3 separate regions of the Homo sapiens genome follow, and all the other regions are linked to region 1. The links come from fine-mapping of genetic effects on gene expression. A gene starts in region 1. Each other region holds a variant in brackets. All regions are shown on one strand. Distances are between the middles of the regions. Region 1 holds the start of SOX8 (SRY-box transcription factor 8). Region 2 has its middle 33 kb from the start of SOX8. Region 3 has its middle 45 kb from the start of GNG13.

Region 1 (8,174 bases):
CCGGGGGCGGGGCCTTTCCCAGCCTCTGCTCACAGCCTGCGCCGGCCCAGCCTGTAGTCACTCTGTCTCTGCCAGACCAGCCGTCATTAAAAGCACCAATTAATCTCCCAGGCCGTGCCAGGACGCTGCCAACTGCCCCACGGGTGCTCGGGATGCAGGGGCTGGGAGGCCCGGGCCAAGGCTGTGCACACACCGGCTGCCAGCGGGTTCACGCCCGCCGGGCCCTCCCTGTGCTTCTCAGAGGCCGCACAAAAGATGGGCTGCCTGCCGCAGGAGGAGGGCCGGGTTGGGGGTGGATGGAGGGGGACGGGGAGGACGGGCAGGGAGGGACGGAGGGGCACAGGGAAGGACGGAGAGGGAGGGACAGGGGCCTCTCCAGGGTGGCATTTCCCTGGGCAGCCCTGCTTCCTCCTCGTGCCCTGGGCCCAACACACACCACACACACACACACACCATACACATGCACACCACACATCACAAACACACCCACACCCTGCACACATACACCACACACTAAACACACACACCACACACATACCACACACATACATCATACACACGCACACACACCACACACCATACACACACCCCACCACACACATACACGCACACACACACACCACACACACACATCATACACACGCACACCACACATCACACACACACAAACACACCCACACCCTGCACACATACACCACACCAAACACACACGGACACACACACACCACACACCATACACACACCACACCACACACATACATCATACACACACACACACACCACACACCATACACGCACCCCACACACATACATCACACACATCATACACATACACACCACACACCATACACACCATACGCACTATACACGCACCATACACACTATACACGCACCACACACACCATAAACACACCCCATACATACATCCCATACACATATCACACATTACATACCATACAAACACACACCACACACACACATGAACACACGCGCCTCCGGGGTCGCCATCCCTAGGAGCCACGGGTAGGGTGGGGTGGTCTCTCATCTGGAAGCATCCCCCAGGCCATCCCTGCACCATCTCATGGGCAGCAGAGCCTGTCCACCCACATTCTTCTCTGCGGCTGTCCTTGGCGCCCAGGCCAGGGCATGTGGAGCTACAAATGTCATCTACACCAGCTCTCCACGCCCGGCACTCACGGCCCAGGGGACAGCCCTGGTCCAGATTCCCCCATCAGGGTATACTTGAAACGTACACTCCCCCTGAAACTGCAAGGCCCACTAGCAGGTGGTGAGGTCAGGGTGGGTGGGGCCATGCAGACACGGCGGAGCAGGCCCCAGCTGAAGGGGTGGGGCAGGGATGGGAGACAGGGGAGGAGGGTGTGTGTGCAGCTCCCCCCTGGATGAAGACATGGGCCCATCAGGTGGACTCAGAGGTGGCTCTGATGGCTGCCCCTCCACTCTCCACCCCCGGGTCCATCTCTTGTCATCAGACACTCTGCTCTAGCTTCCCCAGGGAACACGCTGGCCTCTCCCTGCAGGAGATCAGAAGCTTCAGGGCTCAGCTTAAATGACACCAAAGATGCTTTCCCAGACCATCCTTCCTGAAGTCCCCGCCTCTGAGAGGTGCTTTTGGAGTTACCTGCTGCCTGCCTCCCTCCACAAGGCCAGCGTCTGCAGGGCAGGAGCTGTGAGGGTGGCCCGGCTCCATCCTGTGTGGGAAAGTGCCTGGCACACAGCAAGTGCTTAATTAATACCTGGTGACCCTCAAGCCATCCCGACACCTCCCTCTCTGAAAGCTCCGTCCCGGCGTCCTCTCAGGCCTAGTGGCTCACACCCGCGGAGGACGAGGTCATTTTCCTGGGGACTTCAAGGTGGACCAGAGATGACTCTGGAAGGGGGGTTTGTGGGCACCACTCTGCATGGGGATCCTCACCCACATACCGCCCTCCCGGGAGTGCACCAACACGTCCTCAGCTGACTGGCCTAGGCCCCCACCACCCCGCCACAGAGACTCCCCACCTCCCCACCCCTCCTGTGGCAGCCTGCACGCCCAGCACCTCCCCTGGTGATCACTGCAACCTGGGGAAAGGAGCAGGCGCTGTTGGAGCCTGAGGCAGGGTCTCAGTTGCACAGACCACCGTGCCCCAGAGTCAGGGCCTGGATGCCACTCCCCAACCTCAGTCTCCCTTCCTCCAGGGGTGCTGGAGTTCCCCACCTGTGTCCCAGGGACTTGAAGCTTCCTTGGTGGATGGGGAGCCAGGAAGAGGCCACCCTGCCTGCTCGCAGACCTAATGCAACTGCTTTTCTTTGGCAAAGAGAGCTCTCCACGGAGGTCCTCACCCGGATGGCACTGTGAGCCCGAGTGGGCGATGTCTGCTCTCCCAGGGGCAGGGGGTGGAAGGTGGCACAGTTTGGACCGGACCCCCACCCTCACTGCTTCCACTTAAACCCCCACTTCTGCCTGCCTGCATCCCAGGCCTAACAGATGAGTTCCGCGGGCGCCCCAGGCGATGCTCTGAGGGCCACGGAAGGATGCGGGGACCCCGAGCGGAGGGCAGGGCCTCCAGGGGGAAGAGGCACTGCAGACGGAGGTGTGGGTCTTCCCAGGCAGGTGCCGGAGCCAAGCGAGATGGTGGGACGGGGAAGAGAGGGCAGGCCAGGCTGGCAGCCAGCTCTCCACCTACGATGCGTGGAGCCTCCCAACTCGCGCACTCCGTCTCCCCACCGCTGCTTCCTCTGACCTGGCTGCAGAGATGAGACCGCCCTCCGGGCAGGTGACACGGCCCTTGCTCTTCAGCCTGGAGGCCAATGCTTCCTCCAAAGGCCCTGGCCCCCTCAGCTCCGGGCCTGGCTCCGGTTGTTCCCAATGCAAAGCAGCAAGGGCCCCGGGGTCTGCGGACGGGGGCGGGCGGCCGCTGGGGGCACCAGCTCTCGGCCGGGCCAGAACAGGGGGTAGGAGGCGCGTCCTGTGCGGTCGGTGGCGGCCCCAGGTGGGTGCGGTGCGCTGGCAGGAAGCGGCAGCACGACCCCCGACTTTGCATCTGGACTTTTCTAGTAACGGACCAGCTCCTTCTGCCGACCGGGCCGGGGAGACCGCGTGGCTCAGTGGCTGCAGCGGCCACCGGCCCGGGCGTGGGGGCTTTGAGGGCACCGGCGCGGTAGGTCACCCGGGTTTCGCGGGCCGCAAGCTCGGAGACGCGCGTGTCCCGCGTTGGCTGCCTGACCCGGAATGGCGCAGCCCCTTCGCCTCCAGCGCGCTGGTTGAAAGGATCCGAGCCACCCTCGGGGACGGCCGGGCCGAGGCCACCTCGCGGGGCGGCCTTGGGCGGGGACCCGGACCCGCGGTTGGACGTTCGCCTCGGGGGGGGCAATGTCCCCTCTCCGACCCCGCGGTCCCCACCAGGGCGGCACACCCCGCCCTCTCCCCGCCTCCGCAGGCGCCCAGGGCTCACAGGCTCGGAGCGGCCTCCGCCTCTGCCGGACCACCCAGGGCCGCCCCGCCGGAGGGGCCTCCCCGCCCCCGAGCCCTAGGTCACGCCCGGAAGGCCCGGGGCCCCCGCGTCCGGCCACGCCATCCGCCCGGCGGCCCCAGGGACTCAGCGCCGGGGTCAGCGCAGGCCCCGCCCAGCGCTCCCGCCCCCTCCAGCTGGCCGGCCCCCGGGACCGCGCCCCCGCCCGCGCTCTCCACGCTCGCACTCGTATGGGCAGGGCGGCCCGGGGTCCCCCAGCTCCGAGCCGCGGCCCCTTGAAGCGCGTTACCTGGACGTGCGCTGTCCGCAGACTCTGGACGAGCTGGGCCTGGGCGCTGCGCGGCGGAACCGACCCTGTCCTGGACCGCAGGCAGCAGCTGACCCCGCGCCACCGGCCTGCGGGCGAGACCTCAGGCGCGAGACGGGCTGTGTGTGTGTGTGTGTGTGTGAGAGAGAGAGAGAGAGAGAGAGAGAGAGAGAGAGAGAGAGAGAGTGTGTGTGTGTGTGTGTGTGTGTGTGTGTGTGTGTGTGTGTGTCGGGGGAGGGGCCCGAGGACCCGCTTCCTAGCTGAGCGTCAGGACGGGGGGCGGACTCTCAGGAGCCGCGCGGCGCCCGCAGAGGAGAGGAAGCGCCGGAGACCCCCCTGCTCCCACCCGGCCTCCCTGCCCCGCTTCCTTTCCCGGGGCTCCAGAGAGGGGAGCTCCAGGCGTGGGGCGCCTGGCCCACGTGGTGCGGCGCCGGGCGGGGCAGGCGGGGGCGCGGCGAGAGCCGCGGAGCTTTCTTTATGGGTGGGGGGGCGGGGGCGGCCGGGCTCCGCCTCCGGGGGATCGGGGCGCGCTCCGCCAATGGGTAGCCGGGCGCGGGGCGGGGCCGCGGGGCCGCCGCTTAAAGAAACTTGTTGCGGGTCCCGCAGCGGGACCCGAGCCTCGGCGGCGGCGGCGGCGGCGGCAGGGGCGAGGGTCGGGGCCACCGCGCGGCGACCTCGGGTCCCGGAGCGACCGCAGGGCAGCCCCGGGCGCCGGCCCCGGTGCGCGTCTCCTGTGCGCGCCCCTCCGCGCGCGGCCCCGATGCTGGACATGAGCGAGGCCCGCTCCCAGCCGCCCTGCAGCCCGTCCGGCACCGCCAGCTCCATGTCGCACGTGGAGGACTCGGACTCGGACGCGCCGCCGTCTCCCGCCGGCTCCGAGGGCCTGGGCCGCGCGGGGGTCGCGGTGGGGGGCGCCCGGGGCGACCCGGCGGAGGCGGCGGACGAGCGCTTCCCGGCCTGCATCCGCGACGCCGTGTCGCAGGTGCTCAAGGGCTACGACTGGAGTCTGGTGCCCATGCCGGTGCGCGGCGGCGGCGGCGGCGCGCTCAAAGCCAAGCCGCATGTGAAGCGGCCCATGAACGCATTCATGGTGTGGGCGCAGGCGGCGCGCCGCAAGCTGGCCGACCAGTACCCGCACCTGCACAACGCCGAGCTCAGCAAGACGCTGGGCAAGCTGTGGCGGTGAGTGCCGGCGCCCCGGGGGCGGGGTTCGGGACCTTGGCCGCCCCTGGTCTCGGACTGCGAGCGGGGGCCTGGAGGGCGCAGAGCTCGCGGAGGTGGTGGCCACACGCAGGCTCCGGGCTCTGCACCCCGGGCGGGTGTCAGGGCGGGTCCCAGTGGAAAAACATCCTCTGGCCAGCCGGGGTCCGGCGCCAGCTATGGGAGTCGGGATCCGCGGAGGGCAGCGCCTGGGGTGTGCACCCTCGTGGCGGGTGCGCTCTGGAGCCAGTTCTCCTGGCGGGGAACACCCTGCGGAGGGCCATGGCTGGCACCCCGACGTGCCCTCCAGCCGTTGCGAGTGGCCCCAGCCCCGGGAGGCACGCCCGGCACGACAGCAAGTTGCATGCGGCTCTCTGGAGGTGCTCCCTCCTTAGAAAGGGCTCAGCTCCTCTAGCTCCTGGACCACCCATGGGGAGGGAGTGCGGCAGGCGGATGGGTGGGCAGCAGGTTTGCCTGCGAGTACCCTCCCCGCAGTTTCTCCCTCTCCTGGACACCCTCGGTCCGAAGCAGGGAGGGCAGGAGTGGAGATGACGGGGTGCGCCGTGTGCACGCCTTGGCGTGGTGGGGCCGGTCAGTTTTCCAGAAATTAGGACTGCAGAGTGAAGAACTTGTTGCTCAGGACAGGCCGCCCCCACCGAGTGTCCTCTGGTTGGGTTTCAAATGGTTCTCTTGGTTTGGGGCTCTGGTTCCCGTATCCTGCTCCTCACCTGGAAGAAGGGAGCTTGGAGCTTGCGTATTTGCACCTCCTGCCTTCTGTCTGGATCTAGGGCGCAGCCACGGGGCGCTGTGGACGGCAGGCCCCTGCTCCCCCAAGTCCTGCCGCACAGGCGGTTGGAGGTGAGCCTCGGGAAGAGTCCCAAGGAGTGTGTCCTGTGGCTCAGTGAGGACGGGCGCCTGGGCCCTGCCAGGGCTTCTGGGTGTCTGGGAATGGAGGGACAGCAGCCCAGCTGCCCGCCGAAGGCCGGCACCGTTCCCGGGAAGCCTCGCTTTTGTCCACCGCCGGCTGGGTCCTGCCCGCCTCCCCCGCCTCCCTTAGAAAGCCCCAGAGGGAGGGAACAGCAGGCCCGGAATAGGGGGAAATAGAAGGAGGAAGATGGGAGGCGTGGGGCTTGTTCTTCTTTGGCTGTCGTAAGCATACCAACCTTCCCAAACAGGCGCCGGCCGGTTCTCCCAGAGGAGTGTACTGCCTGGTGCCACGGGAGGCTCCGGAGCGCACGGCAGGCGGGTTTCCCTGGTCAGAGCCTCCTGGCCCCGGCCTCTGCTGCCGGTTCCCCCTGTGGTGTGTGCCTGCGCCGAGGGCACAGTGGGCGCCCTGGCCATCCCTGCCTCTGCCCTGTGCTGCAGCTTGCTGAGCGAGAGCGAGAAGCGGCCCTTCGTGGAGGAGGCAGAGCGCCTTCGCGTGCAGCACAAGAAGGACCACCCCGACTACAAGTACCAGCCACGGCGCAGGAAGAGCGCCAAAGCCGGCCACAGCGACTCCGACTCGGGCGCGGAGCTGGGACCCCACCCTGGCGGCGGTGCCGTGTACAAGGCTGAAGCAGGGCTTGGAGATGGGCACCACCATGGCGACCACACAGGTGGGCTCCAGGCCCCCCGCATATCTGAGGGTCCCTGTATGGGAGGCAGCTGTGGGGTTTCTGGCTGAGAAGGGTGCATGATGGTGGAGGGGGGCAGGCGCCCTCGAGAGAACCGGGCCTTCCCCGGGTTCCCTGAAAAAGCTCCCAAGGCCCCGGCCGCCCCTGTTTTTGGTGCACGAGGGACCTGCTTAGCCACCTTGAGTGCTGAGGGGCTGACAGCTTTGCTTGGCAGGGACCCCGAGAGGTGGTGTTTTCAGCAAGACTCAGTCCAATGCGGGCTCCTCTTCCCACACCGAGCTGCTGCCCACACGGCACTCAGCAGCCCCAGCTTCAGGGCCAGACTGACAGGGTGGAGTCCTGCCGGGGCCTCGGTCAGGCTGGCTGACGCCCGCCAGCCTCAGAGTGCTTGGCTGGCCCGGGGAGGAACAGGGTCTGTGTGGTCCCCCAGCGCCCTGTAAACCCCAGCTCTGGCCAGGCTGGGCCTGTCGGCTTCTTCCCCCCACCTTGGTCTCTGGGAGGGGCCTCGGGTCTTCTCATAGCACAGCGCTTCATGGAATTTTCTCGGCCGAGGAGTGAGGTCTAGGTCTGACTTTGCTGGAATTTCTGGGAAATGTAAAGAAACAAAAAGCCGTTGATCCCCCTGGCAGTTAGCGCGGGCGTCCCTCCCCTTCCAGCCTGGCCGGCCCCACCCGCCCCACAGAAGGGGCATTCATCCCTGAAGCCTGCTCTCCTGTCCCCAGGGCAGACCCACGGGCCGCCCACCCCGCCCACCACCCCCAAGACGGAGCTGCAGCAGGCGGGCGCCAAGCCGGAGCTGAAGCTGGAGGGACGCCGGCCGGTGGACAGCGGGCGCCAGAACATCGACTTCAGCAACGTGGACATCTCGGAGCTCAGCAGCGAGGTCATGGGCACCATGGACGCCTTCGACGTCCACGAGTTCGACCAGTACCTGCCCCTGGGCGGCCCCGCCCCACCCGAGCCGGGCCAGGCCTATGGGGGCGCCTACTTCCACGCCGGGGCGTCCCCCGTGTGGGCCCACAAGAGTGCCCCGTCGGCCTCCGCGTCGCCCACCGAGACGGGTCCCCCACGGCCGCACATCAAGACGGAGCAGCCGAGCCCCGGCCACTACGGCGACCAGCCCCGAGGCTCGCCCGACTACGGTTCCTGCAGCGGCCAGTCCAGCGCCACCCCGGCCGCCCCCGCCGGCCCCTTCGCCGGCTCACAGGGCGACTATGGCGACCTGCAGGCCTCCAGCTACTATGGTGCCTACCCTGGCTACGCACCCGGCCTCTACCAGTACCCCTGCTTCCACTCGCCGCGCCGGCCCTACGCCTCACCCCTGCTCAACGGCCTGGCCCTGCCGCCCGCCCACAGCCCCACCAGTCACTGGGACCAGCCGGTGTACACCACCCTGACCAGGCCCTGAGGGCCCAGCCGCGGGGAGGGACTCGCAGGCGTCAGGGGGCAGCCTTGTCCCGGCCCAGTGTGTGTGACCAGGGCGGGAGGGGCCCCAGTGGCTGAGCTCCAAGTGCCTGCTGAAGTCTGCAGGGAAACACGCTTGCTGCCCGTGGCCCTCGGCCTCCAGATGGCCACACCTCT
Region 2 (8,174 bases), 34 kb after region 1:
AGGCTTTTGGCTTTGCTGGTCTCCAGGCACATGGAGAGACAGACGCTGGCTGAGTGCGTCCTAGGCTGGGTTCCAGGGTGGTCCCAGGAGCGCCGGCAGTGAGCAGTTCAGGGCTGTGGGTGCGGGGCTTGGTCCAGCAGGCAGGAGCAGCCCCGCCCGGGCAAGCCTCCCTGGAGGGAGACAGAGGAGACACAGGGCAGAGACGCAGGGCAGAGACATAGGGCAGAGACACAGCGCAGAGCGGCCAGGGCAGAGACGTAGGACAGAGACGCAGCGCAGAGCGGCCAGGGCAGAGATGCAGGGCAGAGACACAGCGTAGAGCGGCCAGGGCAGAGACGCAGGGCAGAGACGCAGGGCAGAGACACAGGGCAGAGACGCAGGGCAAAGCGGCAGGGCAGAGACGCAGGGCAAAGCGGCAGGGCAGAGACGCAGGGCAAAGCGGCAGGGCAGAGACGCAGGGCAAAGCGGCAGGGCAGAGACGCAGGGCAAAGCGGCAGGGCAGAGACGTAGGGCAGAGCGGCAGGGCAGAGACACAGGGCAGAGCGGCAGGGCAGAGATGCAGGGCAGAGCGGCCAGGGGCCCAGAAGCTGGAAGAGGCGGGAAGGACCCTCACCTGGGGCTTCCGGAGGGAGCACAGCTCTGCTCACACCTCGATTTTAGGCCTGTCTCCAGGCTGCGGGAGAGGACATCGCTGCAGTTTTCAGCTGTGCCATTGGTGGTACTCAGAGCCGGCATTCCCTTCCTGCAGCAGCTGGCCTCGGCGACCCTCACTCCACTATGGCAGGCGTCCCCTGCCTGTCTCCGCACCGTGCCTCAGCCCTGCTCTGGTCCCACAAGGGCTGCAGCTGCCCCGACTCTCCCAGGGCAGAGAGACAAACGGGGGAGCAGAAAGCAGAGTGACCGGGAATGTGCCTGGCGGTCAGGTGGAAGGCCACAGACCCCCGAGGAAGCAGACGTCGTGTGTGGCCTGCCTTGGCGTCCAGGAGACCATCTCCTCCGGTGGGGTCAGACCACAGAGGGGCCCTCTCTGTCTCTGCCCCTTTCCCTGGTGTGAGCAGGAGCACCCGGGCGACAGGGGCGCCTCTTCCTTGCTGCCCCACCCAGAGGGCAGCACACAGCTCAGTGCAGGAGGGACAGAGACCTTCAGGCCCGAATTACCTCCGGCCAACACTCAGCCTGCCCGCAGGACCTCGGGCCACCGTGGTCCTGTCCGCCCGATATTCTTCCAAGTCACCCTCAGCTTCGAGTCTACTTTGAAAGGAGACTCCCCATGGCAGGTTTGAGACACTGCCGGGGTCCCTTCCTGTGCACATTGGAAGAGACGTGGAGGCTCCGGCAGAACGATCTGAGCACCTGATTCCGCACTGGGGCCGCAGCGCGGGCTCCCTTTCAGGGCGTTGGGGGCCACGCTTTGCCCCTCTGTTTAGTAACACTCAGGGGACCCTGAAGGCAGGCAGGCAGGGTCCGCGGGATGGGGAGTCTCACAGCAGCCCACACCCCAGCATCTTGCTGGGAGGAGCTGGGGAGCTGGGTAAATCGGGGAAAATCCATCTCCAGGGCTCCCCTGAGGCTGTCCCCATTCCCAGGAAGGCAGGAATTACCCCACCCTCGGCCAGCCTCTGCCTGCCTTTCCCAAGATGATTCCAGAGCCCAGCAGCTCCTCTGGGACCCACATGGACTAGGCAGGCGGCTGGAGTGCTGTGGAGCACGGGGAAGGGCCATGAGAGCCTGGGACCCTCAGGCTCAGGACACCATCCTGGTGGCTGCTGATGGGGGTCAGCATTCTGCCCCTGCATCCTGCCCCTCTGCCCAGGGTCCGGAGGACTCACCGGGCTGTGCCCCCACCTGTGTGCCCTCCCCATGTCAAAGAGCAGGCGGGGGCGCCTGACAGGGTGAGGCCGAGGGTCCAACCCTCAGCCCCATACTGGCCGCAGGTGGTTCCTGAAACTTGTGGGACTGGAACCTCCTGTTGGCTGAGACCCCGGGGGGTGGTTGCAGAGGTGGGGCTGGTCTGGGAGTAAGCAGGGCAGGACACCTGCGGGGTTGCTTGGCCTCAGGTGGGCAGAGGCTGTTGGGGGCCTGGAGAGCCTGGTGTGACCTGGGGGCAGGCTGGGGTGGGGGATGAAACCCACAGGTGCCCCCAGTCAGATGCACACCCAGGACACACATGCGCACACGCAGGACACACGTGTGCACACCCAGGACACATGCGTGCACACCCAGGACACATGCACGCACACCCAGGACACGTGCACACACAGGACACACGTGTGTGCACCCAGGACACACGAGTGCACACATAGGACACACACGTGCACACCCAGGACACACGAGTGCACACCCAGGACACACCCGTGCACATGGAGGACACACCCATGCACACACAGGACACACATGTGCACACACAGGACACACACGTGTACCACTGTGCAGCCCTGCGCCCCCTCACTGCGTCCTGTTGCAGGCCTGTGTTGCTGTTCCATGTGCTGCCCTCTGCCTGCACGCAGGTGCCCATCGCCAGCGGGGCTGGGATCTTCCTGTGGTGCTCCTTGGCCCCTGCGTTCTGCCCGCCTAAGTGGCCCCTCCGGCTGGTCCTGAGCATCTGCTTGCTCAGCTCTGTCCTGGGCTGGGCTGGTGGCATTGAGGAGGAGCTGGCTGGGCGCTGGGTGAGGCAGGACCAACCCAGGACAGGTGTCCAGCTCTTGACAGGAGCTCCTGGCCCAGGCTGGTGGCTGGGGAGGGGCTGTAGCTGCCAGGGCTGGGAGCGCCTCCTCCACCTGCATCGGACCGTGCTCCGGAGGCCACGGTGCTGTGGAGGGTGGTGGCGGATCTTGGGCAGGCAGAGGCTGCCAGGGGGCCTGGGCGGGGCCTGGGGTGACCCAGGGGCAGGCCAGTGGGCTGTGGAGACTGGTGGTGCTCCAGAGGCCACAGTGCTCTGGGCTTAGAGCAGCTGCACCCGGAGGCATGCCCTGGACGTGGGTCCAACTCTGCGTCATGCAGCTGGGGGGCAATGGACGCGCCCCCCTTCCTGGCCTCGGTGTCCTCCCTGTAGCTGGGATGGCTGAGAGGAGAGGGGAGAGAGAATTGGTTTAGGGGACCTCGCCCAGGAAAGCTCATGATCCACTCTGTACCCACTACGGGGAGGGAGCCGAGTTGTGGGCCCAGGACACCCCTTCTGGCTGGGAGGAAACGGTGGAGGGGCCTGGAATTCCTCCAGGCCTGGGGGTTGCTGGGAGCCCTGATTTACGGCCCCAGCGCCTGCAGCCCCCCTCCTGCCCTGACAGTTCTCGTTGCAGCCTCCAGGTAGGAGGTGTTGGCGGGGCTGGGGCTGGGGTGGGTTTCCAGGTCCCCTCTGCCCATCCTAGGCTCAGTCCTGTGAGCTGAGTGGGTGAGCTGTGTCTGTGGGGCTGGGCTCTGTGTGTGGGCTTCTGAGGGGTGGCCCCGGGCCCCTGTGAGTCTCGGTCTTCCAGTCCGTGGAGTGGGGTGGACTTGTTCTCTGATGCTGGCCGAGGGGGCCTCCTACAGTGGGGGCTGTGGCCTCCATGGGTCCACCTGCCCATCTGTCTGGCCAGCCTGCCCTGCTGGAGGACTCAGTGCCCGAGGCCGGCTTCCTTGTTCACCAAAGGGAGAACAGAGCCATGCCTCCCTCCCAGCCCTGAGCAGGGCCTGTGCCGGGAGGGCCAGTTCCCCTGGCCCAGAGTCGTCTCCCTGTCCCAGCCAGGCTGGAGGTGAGTGGGACGAAGGGGTCCCCAGGGCAGGTGCTGCCGGTGAGGAGGAGAGTGGCTTCTCCGAGGTTGCAGCGAAGGACGGCCAGGTCTGGAGAGGATGTGGCCTGGCCAGTCCTGACGCCGGAGGTGACGTGGCGAGGGCTGGAGGTGGCTCCTCCTGGGAGGCTGCCCCGGGACAGAGGTCTGGGCTGCGTGTGTTGGGCCTGGCCCACTCTCCGTGGCCAGATGCCACCCACCCCCAC[A/G]TCTGCTCAGAGCAGAGGGCAGGCCAGCAGCTCATGCCAGGGTAGGCAAGGCCTGTAGCCCTCAGAGCCTGCAGCAGAACATAGAGCACACTCAGCCCACTGTTTCCCATGGATCCCTAGAGCCCCAGCACTGCTGAGATAGTCCCCAGGCCTCAGTCCCACCCCCAGACACACACACGCACACACACACACAGAACTCTTGTCGCCCAGTCTAAGCCAGCTCACCCGGCAGGAGCACATTCCTGCAGGCCCCGGGGATGCTGGTGTTTCAGGATTGTGTCGAGTCCACTGCAGAGGTTTCCAGAAGAGCCGACAAGAGGCGGACAGGGCGGTGGACAGGGCGGAGCTGCACTCACAGGGGTGGGCGCAGCCGTCCTGGGAGCAGGGGTCTTGGCTGAGGACCCCGGGCCCTTCTGCTTTGAGCTGTGGGTCTGAGGGGCCTCCGTGCGGGGCTGGCCCTGGGAACTGTGGTCACTTGAAGCCCACTCCTCCTGCTGATGTCCACCCAGGGACAGGCCTCCTCCAGCAGCTGGCCTCAGAGAGACAGCCGTGTGCCCAGACCCACAGGTCGCGTGCTTCTGCTCTATACAGCCTTCATGGGAGACTGGGGTCTCTCCAGCCAGGGCACCAACAAGCGCCCAGACCCATTCCTGGCCCTCGTGTTCATAAAATCCTTGTGGCTTCAAATATTTTTCAGACTTTAGTCGTGGTGGTTGTTGGAAAGGGCCAGCTTCCTGCTGCAATGATCCCTGAATCCTCTCCCCAAGCTCTGCAGGCCTGGTCTGATAGGTCACCCACAGTGGCGTCTCCTTGAACTTAAGAGCAGGCTGCAGGCCAGGCGCGGTGGCTCAAGCCTGTAATCCCAGCACTTTGGGAGGCCGAGGCGGGTGGATCACCTGAGGTCGGGAGTCCGAGACCAGCCTGGCCAACATGGTGAAACCCTGTCTCTACTAAAAATACAAAAATTAGCCAGGCGTGGTGGTAGGTGCCTGTAATCTCAGCTACTCGGGAGGCTGAAGCAGGAGAATATTGAAACCAGGAGGTGGAGGTGACAGTGAGCCAAGATCACACCACTGCACTCCAGTCTGGGCAACAGAGCGAGAATCTGTCTCAAAAAAAAAAAAAAGAAAGAAAGAACCGGCTGCAGAGGGCCCTGGGTTGGAAAGAGGGGGCATGTGGTGGCCCCTGCAGGGGGTGACATCCTGCGGGGGTGACATCTGCCTTCTAGGGAATAAGACCCTGAAGCAGGCAGGTGGGCGAGGTGGGGAGGCCTCACAGGGTTGGGAGCAAAGGCTCCAATCCCAACCACTGAGGTGCTGGTCTGGCTTCTGCCGTGTATCAACTGGTGACCTTGGGCCTGCCTCAGTTTCCCCATCTACATAGCCCTCCTCCTGCCCGGACCTTGTTGGGATTAGCCAAGTTGACACCTGACAAACACCTGGGCACACTCAGCGGAGTGAATCGTCCACAAATGGTACCCCACAGCCCCCCATACTGCGGGTGTTTCCATCTTTGCTTTGCCCGCCGGGAAGCTCTGTGTGGAGTGTGACCCACCCTGGCACTGGCTGCCTCTTTAGGGTTCTGGGCACTCTCTGAACTTTGTAGTTTCTTTGGCATTTTTTTTCTTTCCTTGTTTGCTCTTTATTAATTTTTTCATAATTTTATTTCTCAGACATAATTCACATAAGAGTCACCATTTTAAAATGGACGGCTCAATGATTTTAGCACGCCCACTAAATGTGCTGGAATTGTGTAACCATTATCACCATCGATTTTATTTCATTTTTAATTTTTGTGGATACACAGTAGGTATATATATTTATGGGGCACATGAGATGTTTGGATGCCAGCATGTGGTGCGAACTAAGCATGATCCGTTTTAGAACATTTTATCACCTCCCAAAAGAAATCACCTAACCTTGGCCAGGCACGGTGACTCACGCCTGTTATCCCAGCACTTTGGGAGGCCGAGGCGGGCGGATCATGAGACCATCCTGGCTAACGCAGTGAAACCCCGTCTCTACTAAAAACACACAAAAAATTAGCTGGGCGTGGTGGCGGGTGCCTGTAGTCCCAGCTACTGGGGAGGCTGAGGCAGGAGAATGGAGTGAACCCGGGAGGCGGAGCTTGCAGTGAGCCGAGATTGCGCCACTGCACTCCAGCCTGGGCGACAGAGCGAGACTCCGTCTCAAAATAAAAAAAAAATCATAAAAAATAAAAACAAAGAAAGAAATCACTCAACCTTTAGACATCAGTATTTCCGGATCCTCCCACTCCTGATTCCCTCAGCCCTAGACAAACACCAATCTGTTTTCTGTCGCTGCAGGTTTGCCTATTCAAGACATTTCACATAAATGGGATCACACGATGCGGGGCCTTTTGTGTCTGGCTTCTCCCACTGAACTCATGTTTTTAAGGTTCATCCATCCGGTAGCAAGGGTCAGAATCTCTTTCCTCTGTGAGGCTAGTGTTCCGCTGCGTGGGTGAACTGTCCCCCATCTATCCATTCAATTGTTAGTGGATGTTTGGGTGGCTTTCATTTTTTTTTTTTTTTTGGCTATTGTGAATAGTACTATGAACATCCATATACAAATGTGTGTGTGGACATATATTTTCAGTTATCTTGGGTAGATGGCTAGGAACGGAATTGCCAGGTCATGTGCTAATTCTAGGTTCCGACTTTTGAGGAACCATTAAATTGTTTTCCAAACTGGCTGCCTCATTCTCCATTCCTGCCAGCAGTGCGTGAAGACTTGTTTCTCCGCATCCTCACCAACACCTACAGCCTGGTTTTCCTGACATAAGCATCCTCATGGGTGTGAGGTGGCCTCTCATCGTGGCTTTGATTTGGGTTTCCCGGGTGGCTGGTGACACGGAGCATCTTTTCACGTGCTTGTTGGCCACAGGTGTATCTTCTTTGAGAAATGTCTGTTTCGATCCTTTGCTATTTTAAATTAGGTGATTTGTCTTTTTATTTTATTTTTTTTCTTTTTTCCTTTTTTCTTTTTTTGAGACAGAGTTTCGCTCTTGTTGCCCAGGCTGGAGTGCAATGGCACCATCTCAGCTCACTGCAGCCTCCACCTACCTGGTTCAAGCAATTCTCCTGCCCCAGCCTCTCGAGTAGCTGGGATTACAGATGCCCGCCGCCACGCCCGGCTAATTTTTATATTTTTAGTACAGATGGGGTTTCGCCACGTTGGCCGGGCTGGTCTCAAACTCCTGACCTCAGGTGATCCACCAGCCTCGGCCTCCCAAAGAGCTGGGATGACAGGTGTGAGCCACCGCAACCGGCCTTTATTGTTGACTTGTAAGGGCTCTTGATGTATTATGGATATTATATATCCCCTTATCAGATAAATGACTTGCAAATATTCCCCCCATTTGGTGGGTTGTCTTTTTACTTTCTCGATGGTGGCCTGTGAGACACAAAAAGTCTTTAACTTCAAATATCTCTCTACATTTTGTGTGCCTTTTGTTGCTTTTGGTGTCCTTATTTATTTTCTTTTTTTGAGACAGGGTCTCCCTTTGTCACTCCCCCAGCTAGAGTGCGGTGGCGTCATCACCGCTCTCTGCAGCCCCAACCTCCCTGGGCTCAGCCATCCTCCTGCCCCAGCCACCTGGGTAGTCAGGGCTCCAGGTGCACGCCACCACACCCGGCTAATGTTTGTATTTCTTGTAGTGATGGGGTCTCGCTATGTTGCCCAGGTTGGTCTCAAACTCCTGGGCTCAAACAACCGTGCCTTGGCCTCCCAATGTGCTGGGATTACCGGTGTGAGCCACTGTGCCTGGCCTTTATTCATTTCTATGTGGCTGAACACATTTGGTATGGATCCCAGGCCCTTGGTGAGCTGGGTGGGTGCAGACACACATGTGTGGATGGAGCCCAGGCCCTTGGTGAGCTGGGTGAGTGCAGACACACATGCGTGGATGGAGCCCAGGCCCTTGGTGAGCTGGGTGGGTGCAGACACACATGCGTGGATGTGGGCATGGGCAGGCACAGGTGTGGTGGGAAGAGTGTGCCCAGCGTTAGGTGTCAGGGGAGCTCAGGAAGATTGAGGCAGTCAGGGAGGACTTCCTGATGGAGGAGCCTGGTCCTTTGAAATGTGGGGTGGGGACCTCGCCCCACATTCAGTCTGGTTCGGGGGTGGGGCCCCCAGCCCCCCTCACATTGGGGGTGTGTTCCCCTCCTCCTTTTGGAGCCCAG
Region 3 (8,174 bases), 140 kb before region 1:
GGGTAGCGCTGCCGCAGGAGGCTGAGGGGGTGGTGGGGCGGTTGACTGAGGAGGGGCCTCCACGTGCTCCTCTCGGTTGGACCCGGGTCTGTGGGGCTCCTGGGCCTGCAGGCGCCGCCTCCTACTCCTGCTGGGGCCCCCGTCTCCTGGGCCTGCAGCAACCCAGGGCTGTGTTGTGTCTCCAGGCAACGGTGAGGTGTCCCCTCCCAGCTCTGCGGAAGTGAGTCTCGGTGTCTTGGAGATGTGTTCTCTGGAGGCTCCGGGTGACGATGCTTCCTGCCCCTTCTGGTTCCCGGCGGCTGGACGCCCCAGGGTGGGTGGATCACTCTGTCTCCGTGTTCACGCAGCCTTGTTCCCTTGCTGTGTATCATCGTCCCTGGCTTTACGAAGCCGTCACTGGGTCTGGGCCATCCTCAATCCAGGATGACCTGATCTCAAGGCCTTCCCCTTAATCACAACTGCAGAGACCCTAGTTCCAAATAGGTCCCGTTCTGAGATTCCGGGTGGCCGTGAATTTAGGGAGACAGCATTCAGCCCATTGTCCTGGGGTCAAGGCCGACCCTCAGACCCTCCTCGGGGGAGCTGACACCCAGTGAGGGGTCAGACAACAGGAAGGGCAGGACTGGCCACGCCTGCCCCAAAGGCACCGTGGACAGATGGGCGGGTGGCTGGGGAGGCCCCTGGCTGGGGTGACAGTGACCGAGTGGGGGATGCCCCTGGGCCGGGGGTGCGTTGGCTGGGGCACCCCCTGAGCTGTGTCCTGTGCACAGCTGTGGGCTGTGCCATCCACCTCCACCAGACAGGGCTGTGAAAGGGCAGGGCAGGCAGACGGGCTGGGGCTGCAGCCTGCAGCTGTGCGGCACACAATGGGGCCGGCCCTGGAGGGGACACGGGTCCTGATCTGGCTGATGATGCCGCGTATCTTTTGCATGGAGAAGAACTGTGAGTGTGGACATCGTGTGGGGAGACGAGGCCACCTGATGGAGAGCCTGGAGCCCGCCCTTTAAGGGAACAAGGCGCTTTTTTCACCCTTTTTTTCGTGTGTCTCAGACAGCTGGCTCCTTAAATATTAATCAGGGTCATTGAGATGCAAATGCGTGCCCACCACAGAAGGCCCCGCAGCTGCAGGGCTGGCACTGAACATCCTGGTGGCCCAGATGCAGCCCTGACCAGAGCCAGCGGCGAAGACCACCTTCCCTGAGGACAAACGGGCGCCGGCCCCTCGACAGGAGCAAGGGTGGCGTGGGCCTTGCTGGGTCTTGCTGGGTCTTGCTGGCCGTGGCTTTCCTGGCTTTCACTGCCCTTAAAACGAGGTGTCCTGGGGCCGGGCGTGGTGGCTCACGCCTGTAGTCCCAGCACTTTGGGAGGCCGAGGTGGGTGGATCATGAGGTCAGGAGATTGAGAGCATCCTGGCTAACACGGTGAAACCCCGTCTCTACTAAAAGTACAAAAAATTAGCTGGGTGTGGTGGCGGGCGCCTGTAGTCCCAGCTACCCCGGAAGCTGAGGCAGGAGAATGGCGTGAACCTGGGAGGTGGAGCTTGCAGTGAGCCGAGATCGCGCCACTGCACTCCAGCCTGGGCGACAGAGCGATACTCCGTCGCAAAAAAAAAAAACAAAAAACAAGGTTTCCTGGACAGGCACTCGCCAGGGCGCTCTCGAAGCCGTGGGGCTGGGGGAAGGCGCCGTGTGTCCGGCCTGTGGTGGGTTCAGAGGCTGAGTTTAGAAAAGTCCGGCCTGGGAAGCACATCACTGGGTGGACACGGTGACCTGGATGCAGGGGGGCGGCTGTGCTCGGGACACGGTGACCTGGATGCAGGGGGGCGGGGTGGCTGTGCTCAGGCTGCCCGGGGTCGACCATCAGCAGAAACAAAATAGGATGGAAGAGGCAGAGAGGCCAGGAGCCACAATGGCCCCGCCCGGAGCCGGGTCTCCTCCCGCTTCCTTAGCACACATGTTAGAGGACAAACCGCAGCTCAGCTCTTCATAATAAACACAGTGGAAGCTTCAGGGACTCAGAAGTGCAGCCCAGGCCGGGCGTAGTGGCTCACGCCTGTAATCCTACCACTTTGGGAGGCCGAGGCAGGTGGATTACTAGATCATGAGTTTGAGACCAGCCTGGCCAACATGGTGAAACCCCATCTCTACTAAAAATACAAAAATTAGCCGGGCGTGGTGGCGGGCGCCTGTATTCCCAGCTACTCTGGAGGCTGTGACAGGAGAATCACTTGAACCCGGGAGGCGGAGGCTGTGGTGAGCCCAGATGGCGCCACTGCACTCCAGCCTGGGTGACAGAGTGAGACTCCGTCTCAAAACAACAGCACAACACCCGGAACTGGAGGCTCTCACACGCCACAGTTAGAGAGATTTTCTGATCATAATAGTTTCCGCGTGGATTGGAACTCACGCAAAGCAGCACACACAGTGGACAGCGAGCTCCAACATGTCCACGGGTGAACATCAGCGTGGCCACCACCAGGTCCAGAGCACAGTAGACCCTGTGCCGCCAGTGTCCGTCGCCTTCCACACGTGGCCGCAGTTCTGTGCATGGGGCCGCCCGCCATCCTGCCGCCTCTGACCTGGGCTGTGGGCTCGTGACACGTGTCTGAGCTTTCCAGTCGTGGCCGTGACGCTCTGTGCGGAGGCTCCGTCCGCGTGCTGCCTCCGTCCCCTCTGCCCTGGACGGCCACTCACTACCTTTGTCTCTCACCCTGGGGGTTTCATGACCCCGGAGCCTCCACGTCCTGGTACAGAGCCTGCCTCTCCGGGACTGGGCTTCGGCCGAGCAGACACCGCCTAGCTGCTCTTTGACCAGCGTTCTCTGCTCTGCGTCTGGCTGGCATCGGCGGCTTGCTGAGTCCAGCCTGGCATCTCGCTGGCATCGGCGGCTCGCTGGGTCCAGCCTGGCGCTGACACGTTTCTGTGCTCATTTCATTTTACAAATCAACTCCCCAAGGTGAGGTGGGCTCGTGCCAGCAGGTGGGAGCCGGTCGTGCACGTCTGCCCAGCTCCGTGCTGAGTGAGGACGTGTTGGGGGCTTGAATCGGAGATGGGGGCGGGCACGGTGTTTAGATCACAGAAATTCAAAACCACATAAATCAGGGCTTTATCCAGAGAGCCGGGCATGATTTCCAAACACAAAATGCACCCATTTAAATGTAACCGACGGTTTCTGACAAGGGCACCCGGCACCACAGCTGAGATTCAGAACATTCCTCTCCCAGATCTCCCTGCGTTCCGGCCCCGGCAACATGGGCCTGCGTCTGTCACTGGAGTTGGGCCGCGGTCCTCCCTGCAGTTCCGCGAGTGGAGCTGCGCCCTGTGAGCTCTTTCGTCTGTGTTCTTTAGCTGAGCGTGGTGCCTTGGAGGGTCCGACGCTGTGCGTATCAACAGCCGGATGTGCCTGTTTCTGAGGACGATGGCTCCAAGATGACCCGGTTCACCCGTCCTCCTGCTGACGGACAC[C/T]GGCACCACCCCGGGTCCTGGCTGCAGTAAATCAACCCGCTATAAACGCTGCTTACACGTCCTTGTGCTTTCATGTCTCTCGGGCAGATACCTAGGAGTGGAGTGGCTGCTTCCTGAGGAAGTTCACGCTTCATGTTTCCAGAACTGACACTTCTCCAGAGTGGCTGCCTCCTCCCGTCCTGGTGGGCGTATGAGGCTTCTCCTCCTCCATTTTCTGGAAGAGCTTGGATAGGGCAGTGTTATTTCTCTACCGAGTATTGCATGGAACTCGCCAGTGAACACATCTTGGCCTCAAGTTTTCTTTGTGGAAAATTTTAAATTACAAATTCAATTTCTTTTTTCTTTTTTTGAGATGGAGCCTCACTCTGTCACCGAGGCTAGAGTGCAATGGTGCGATCTCCGCTCACTGCAACCTCTGCTTCCCGGGTCCAAGTGATTCTCCTGCCACAGCCTCCCGAGTACCTGGGATTACAGGTGTGCACCATCATGGGGGCTAGTTTTTGTATTTTTGGTAGAGACGGGATTTCACCATGTTGGCCAGGCTGGTCTCAAACTCCTGTCCTCAGGTGATCCACCTGCCTGGGCCTCCTAAAATGCTGGGATGACAGGCGTGAGCCACTGCGCCCGGCCCAAATTCAGTTTCTTCAATTATTATGGGACTCTTGGGCTTTCTTTCTTCGTCGGCTGTAGGGAGAGGATTAGGGTTTGGGCTAGCGTTCGTTTTAGTAATCTGTGCCTTTCACGGAGTGTTTCTCATTTAATGTAGGGTGCTGAGTTGATTAGAATAAAGTTGTTCATAATATTACCTTATTATTCCTGTAGCATCTCTGTGGATTTGTGGTGATATCTTTTCTTCTTGATATTGGCTATTTGTATTTTCTCACCTTTTTGCTAGATCATTGCAGCTTGGGGTTCACTGACGTTGTTCTGTAATGGATCCCGGTTTCCTGTAAACCCACGTATGTCCCGTGTCTGTAATGCGTCCCGGTTTCCTGTAACCCGTGTGTGTCCCGTGTCTGTAATGCGTCCCGGTTTCCTGTAACCCGTGTGTGTCCCGTGTCTGTAATGGGTCCTGGTTTCCTGTAAACCCGTGTGTGTCCCGTGTCTGTAATGGGTCCCGGTTTCCTGTAACCCGTGTATGTCCCGTGTCTGTAATGGGTCCCGGTTTCCTGTAACCCGTGTGTGTCCCGTGTATGTAATGTGACCCGGTTTCCTGTAAACCCGTGTGTGTCCCGTGTCTGTAATGTGTCGCGGTTTCCTGTAACCCGTGTGTGTCCCGTGTCTGTAATGCGTCCCGGTTTCCTGTAACCCGTGTGTGTCCCGTGTCTGTAATGCGTCCCGGTTTCCTGTAACCCGTGTGTGTCCCGTGTCTGTAATGGGTCCCGGTTTCCTGTAACCCGTGTGTGTCCCGTGTCTGTAATGTGTCCCGGTTTCCTGTAACCCGTGTGTGTCCCGTGTCTGTAATGGGTCCCGGTTTCCTGTAACCCGTGTGTGTCCCGTGTCTGTAATGTGTCCCGGTTTCCTGTAACCCGTGTGTGTCCCGTGTCTGTAATGGGTCCTGGTTTCCTGTAAAGCTGTGTGTGTCCCGTGTCTGTAATGTGTCCCGGTTTCCTGTAAACCCGTGTGTGTCCCGTGTCTGTAATGTGTCGCGGTTTCCTGTAAACCCCTGTGTGTCCCATATCATCTGGACTAGGTACCTTCTCCCAGCGGCCCGGGGTGCTGACCTGGCTCAGTGCCTCTTCTTTCCTTTGCTGAGTGTTCTTTCCTCTTTTTTGTTGTTCAGATGAGAGTCTGTTGATGTTCCTCCAGCATGTCCACATGGCTGCGGGTGAAGGGCTTCACAGTAGCCCACCGTGGGCAGGTGTTTAAGGAACAACTTCCAGGTTAGGAAAAAGATGAGGCAGAGGAGATGGCCCCACCTGCCACCCAAGAGAAAAAGAGGCTCAGGGAGGGGAGGAAAGGATGTTGCGGCCCGCCATCTGTCTGCACACCAACCGTCAGAGCTGACGGAAGCTTTCGCCAACTTGCTTCCAGCAATGGGCCAACGACAATCAAGGCGGCTATGACGGCCAGTCCAGGGCTGGTTTGAAAGCTGTAACAGTTTGGACAGTGTGGTATGACCTGGGCAGGTATAGATCACACTGGGTCAGGTGTAAACCCTAGAACGGTGAGCCACCAACCCAGACTCAGCGGGTCAGCTGCGGCCCCTGGCCAGGCGGCCCAGGCAAAGTAAGGTGGCCGCAGCCCTGCAGGGAGGGTGGCACTGTCCGCAAACCCTCCCGGTGCCCCGGGTTCCCCAATGCGCTCAGACCTGGGGGTGGGCACGGAGGCCCCCCAGCCTTCCCCTGCCTAGTGCCTGGGGTGCTTCTTCCCAGCGCCTGGAGGTTTCCATCCCTCCCGCACACAGCGCTTGGAGCAAGATGGGAGGGAGGTGCCTGCTTGCTGCCTCCTGCTGGTGTGTGGGAGCCCAGGTGAACACTGGGTGGTGCGGAAAGCCACCAGCGTGATGTGGGAAGGCCATTTGCTAAGCGCCAGGTGGGCCCGGGTGTGGGCTGGGTGGGCAGCCTGGCTCGCGGCGTAAGGGGCAAGCTATCCAGGCAGCAGTGGGCTGAGAATTGCCGGCATCACCTGTCATTTGCTCGCGTGGTCCTCAGTGAATCAAAGTTTGCATGTCCGTGACTGCGGCCATCATCAGAGCTTGTGGGACCACTGGTGGCTCCGTACGGCACTTTCGGGTTAACCAGCATCCAGGTGCACTGAGCCTTGGTCTTAAGCGGCTCCAGCCCCATGCACGCCACAGAGAAGGAGTGAAGCGCGTTCCCTGCCCGGCATCCTGAGCCCCACTGGACCTTCTGGCAGGGTGAGGGTCTGGGCCCTGAGGCAGGGAGGCCCAGGGTCTCAGGACGCTTAAGACACTCTGCTTTGCTTTGCTGTATTTCAAAACATTGAGGTGAAGTTGACATTTACATAAAATTAACCACTTAAAGGTCAGCAGTGTGGTGCACGTAACACATTGGCCACACGCACAACCAGCATCTCTGCCTAATTCCAGATATTTTCATCACCCGCCAGAGAACCTTCTGGACCTGTGAGCCGTCATGCCCGCTCTCCCTGTTCCTGCCAGCAGCCCCGAGAGCCGTCCACCTTCTCCCTGCCCAGCGTCTCTGTGGGTTTCCCTGTTCTGGACATTCCAGAGACGGCATCGCAGGACCGGTGCCCTCTGTGTCTGGCGGGTTCACTGGGCATCAGGTTCTCAAGGCTCATCTGAGCGTCGGGGCCTCGCTCCTCTTTGCGGCTGCGTAATGCTCATGGGTGAGCACACCTGGTCTGTTCATCTGGGCTGTCCCCACCTCTGGGCTGCTGCAAACGTTCCGGTGCAAGCACACCCAGGTCCCCGTTTCCCGCTCTCCCGGGTCTACATGCAGATGTGGAGTTGCGGGGTCACGTGGTTCCCGTTTCTAGCTCTCCCAGGTCTACGTGCAGACGTGGAGTTGCGGGGTCACGTGGTCCCCGTTTCTAGCTCTCCCGGGTCTCCGTGCAGACGTGGAGTTGCGGGGTCACGTGGTCGCCGTTTCTAGCTCTCCCGGGTCTACGTGCAGACGTGGAGTTGCGGGGTCATGTGGTCATCCGTCTACACTGAACATTTCGAGGAACCCCCAGACAGTCTCCACGTGGCCACATCATTCTGATGCATGGCAGACGAGCCCGAAAGAGGAGCTTAGTCCCAGAGGGTTCTTGGCTTTGCCCAGGAAAGAATTCAAGGTCGAGCCAGAGGTGGAAGGAAACAGCTTTACTTCAGAGGTGGGGTTACAGCTGTGGCTGCTCCCGCAGGGCAGGGCTTCCACAGACAGCAGCCCGGGGCAGCTCTGCAGTCTCACTTATAGCCACAGTTTTTTTTTTTAAAGACAGAATATTACTCTATTGCCCAGGCTGGAGTGCAGTGGTACGGTCTCAGCTCACTGCAACATCTGCCTCCCGGGTTCAAGCGATTCTTCTGCCTCAGCCTCCCGAGTAGCTGGGACTACAGGTGCCTGCCACGCCAGGCTAATTTTTGTATTTTTGGCACAGACGGGGTTTCACTATGTTGGCCAGGCTGGTCTCAAACTCCTGACTTCAGGTGATCCGCCTGCCTTGGCCTCCCAAAGTGCTGGGATTACAGGTGTGAGCCACTGTACCCGGCCAGAAATGTCAAATTTTGATGAAGTCCAATTTATTTTCTGTGTTGTTGCCGGTGCTGTTGTTGTCATATCCAAGAAAACACTGCCAAATCCAATGTCCTTAAGATTTTCCCAGGTTTTATTCTGAGTCTTACAGTTTTAGCTCTTACATTTAGGTGTTTCATCCTATGTTTTTTGGGTTAATTTTTGTGTATGCTGTTAGGTAAGGGGCCAGCTTCATTCATTATTTTGCATGTGGAGATAAAGCTTTCCCAGTACCATTTGCTGAAAAGGCTGTCCTCTTCCCATTGAATGGTCTCAGAGCCTTTGTCGGAAGGTACCAGGCCACGTGTGGGACAATTTCTTGGGTCATTCTCATCGGAAGGTACCTGGTTGTTCTCGTTGGAAGGTGCCTGGTTGTTCTTGTCGGAAGACACCTGGTTGTCCTCGTTGGAAGGTACCTGGCTGCGTGTGGGACGATTTCTTGGGTCGTTGTTGTCAGAAGGTACCTGGTTGCATGTGTGGAATGATTTCTCGGGTTGTTCTCATCGGA

What was found.
Region 2: its variant is fine-mapped to the expression of SOX8 in aorta (GTEx, PIP above 0.99).
Region 3: its variant is fine-mapped to the expression of SOX8 in whole blood (TOPMed, PIP 0.99).

What each region holds. Positions count from the first base shown.
Region 1 is chr16:977,386-985,559 of GRCh38, forward strand. It overlaps SOX8 (SRY-box transcription factor 8), which reads left to right and starts at 4,385. Exons shown (of 3, transcript NM_014587.5): 1 at 4,385-4,959; 2 at 6,343-6,575; 3 at 7,316-8,174. The coding sequence starts at 4,538. The coding sequence ends at 8,001. CEROX1 (cytoplasmic endogenous regulator of oxidative phosphorylation 1) reads right to left here and starts at 4,228. Exons shown (of 3, transcript NR_164343.1): 1 at 2,216-4,228; 2 at 1,640-1,725. It also overlaps a transcript of LMF1 not described here.
Region 2 is chr16:1,010,963-1,019,136 of GRCh38, forward strand. No RefSeq gene overlaps it. Among named protein-coding and RNA genes, the nearest start is that of SOX8, 33 kb to the left of the region's middle. RefSeq lists a silencer at 3,394-3,595. The variant A/G (reference allele first, on the strand shown) is at 3,971.
Region 3 is chr16:842,142-850,315 of GRCh38, forward strand. No RefSeq gene overlaps it. Among named protein-coding and RNA genes, the nearest start is that of GNG13, 45 kb to the left of the region's middle. The variant C/T (reference allele first, on the strand shown) is at 3,465.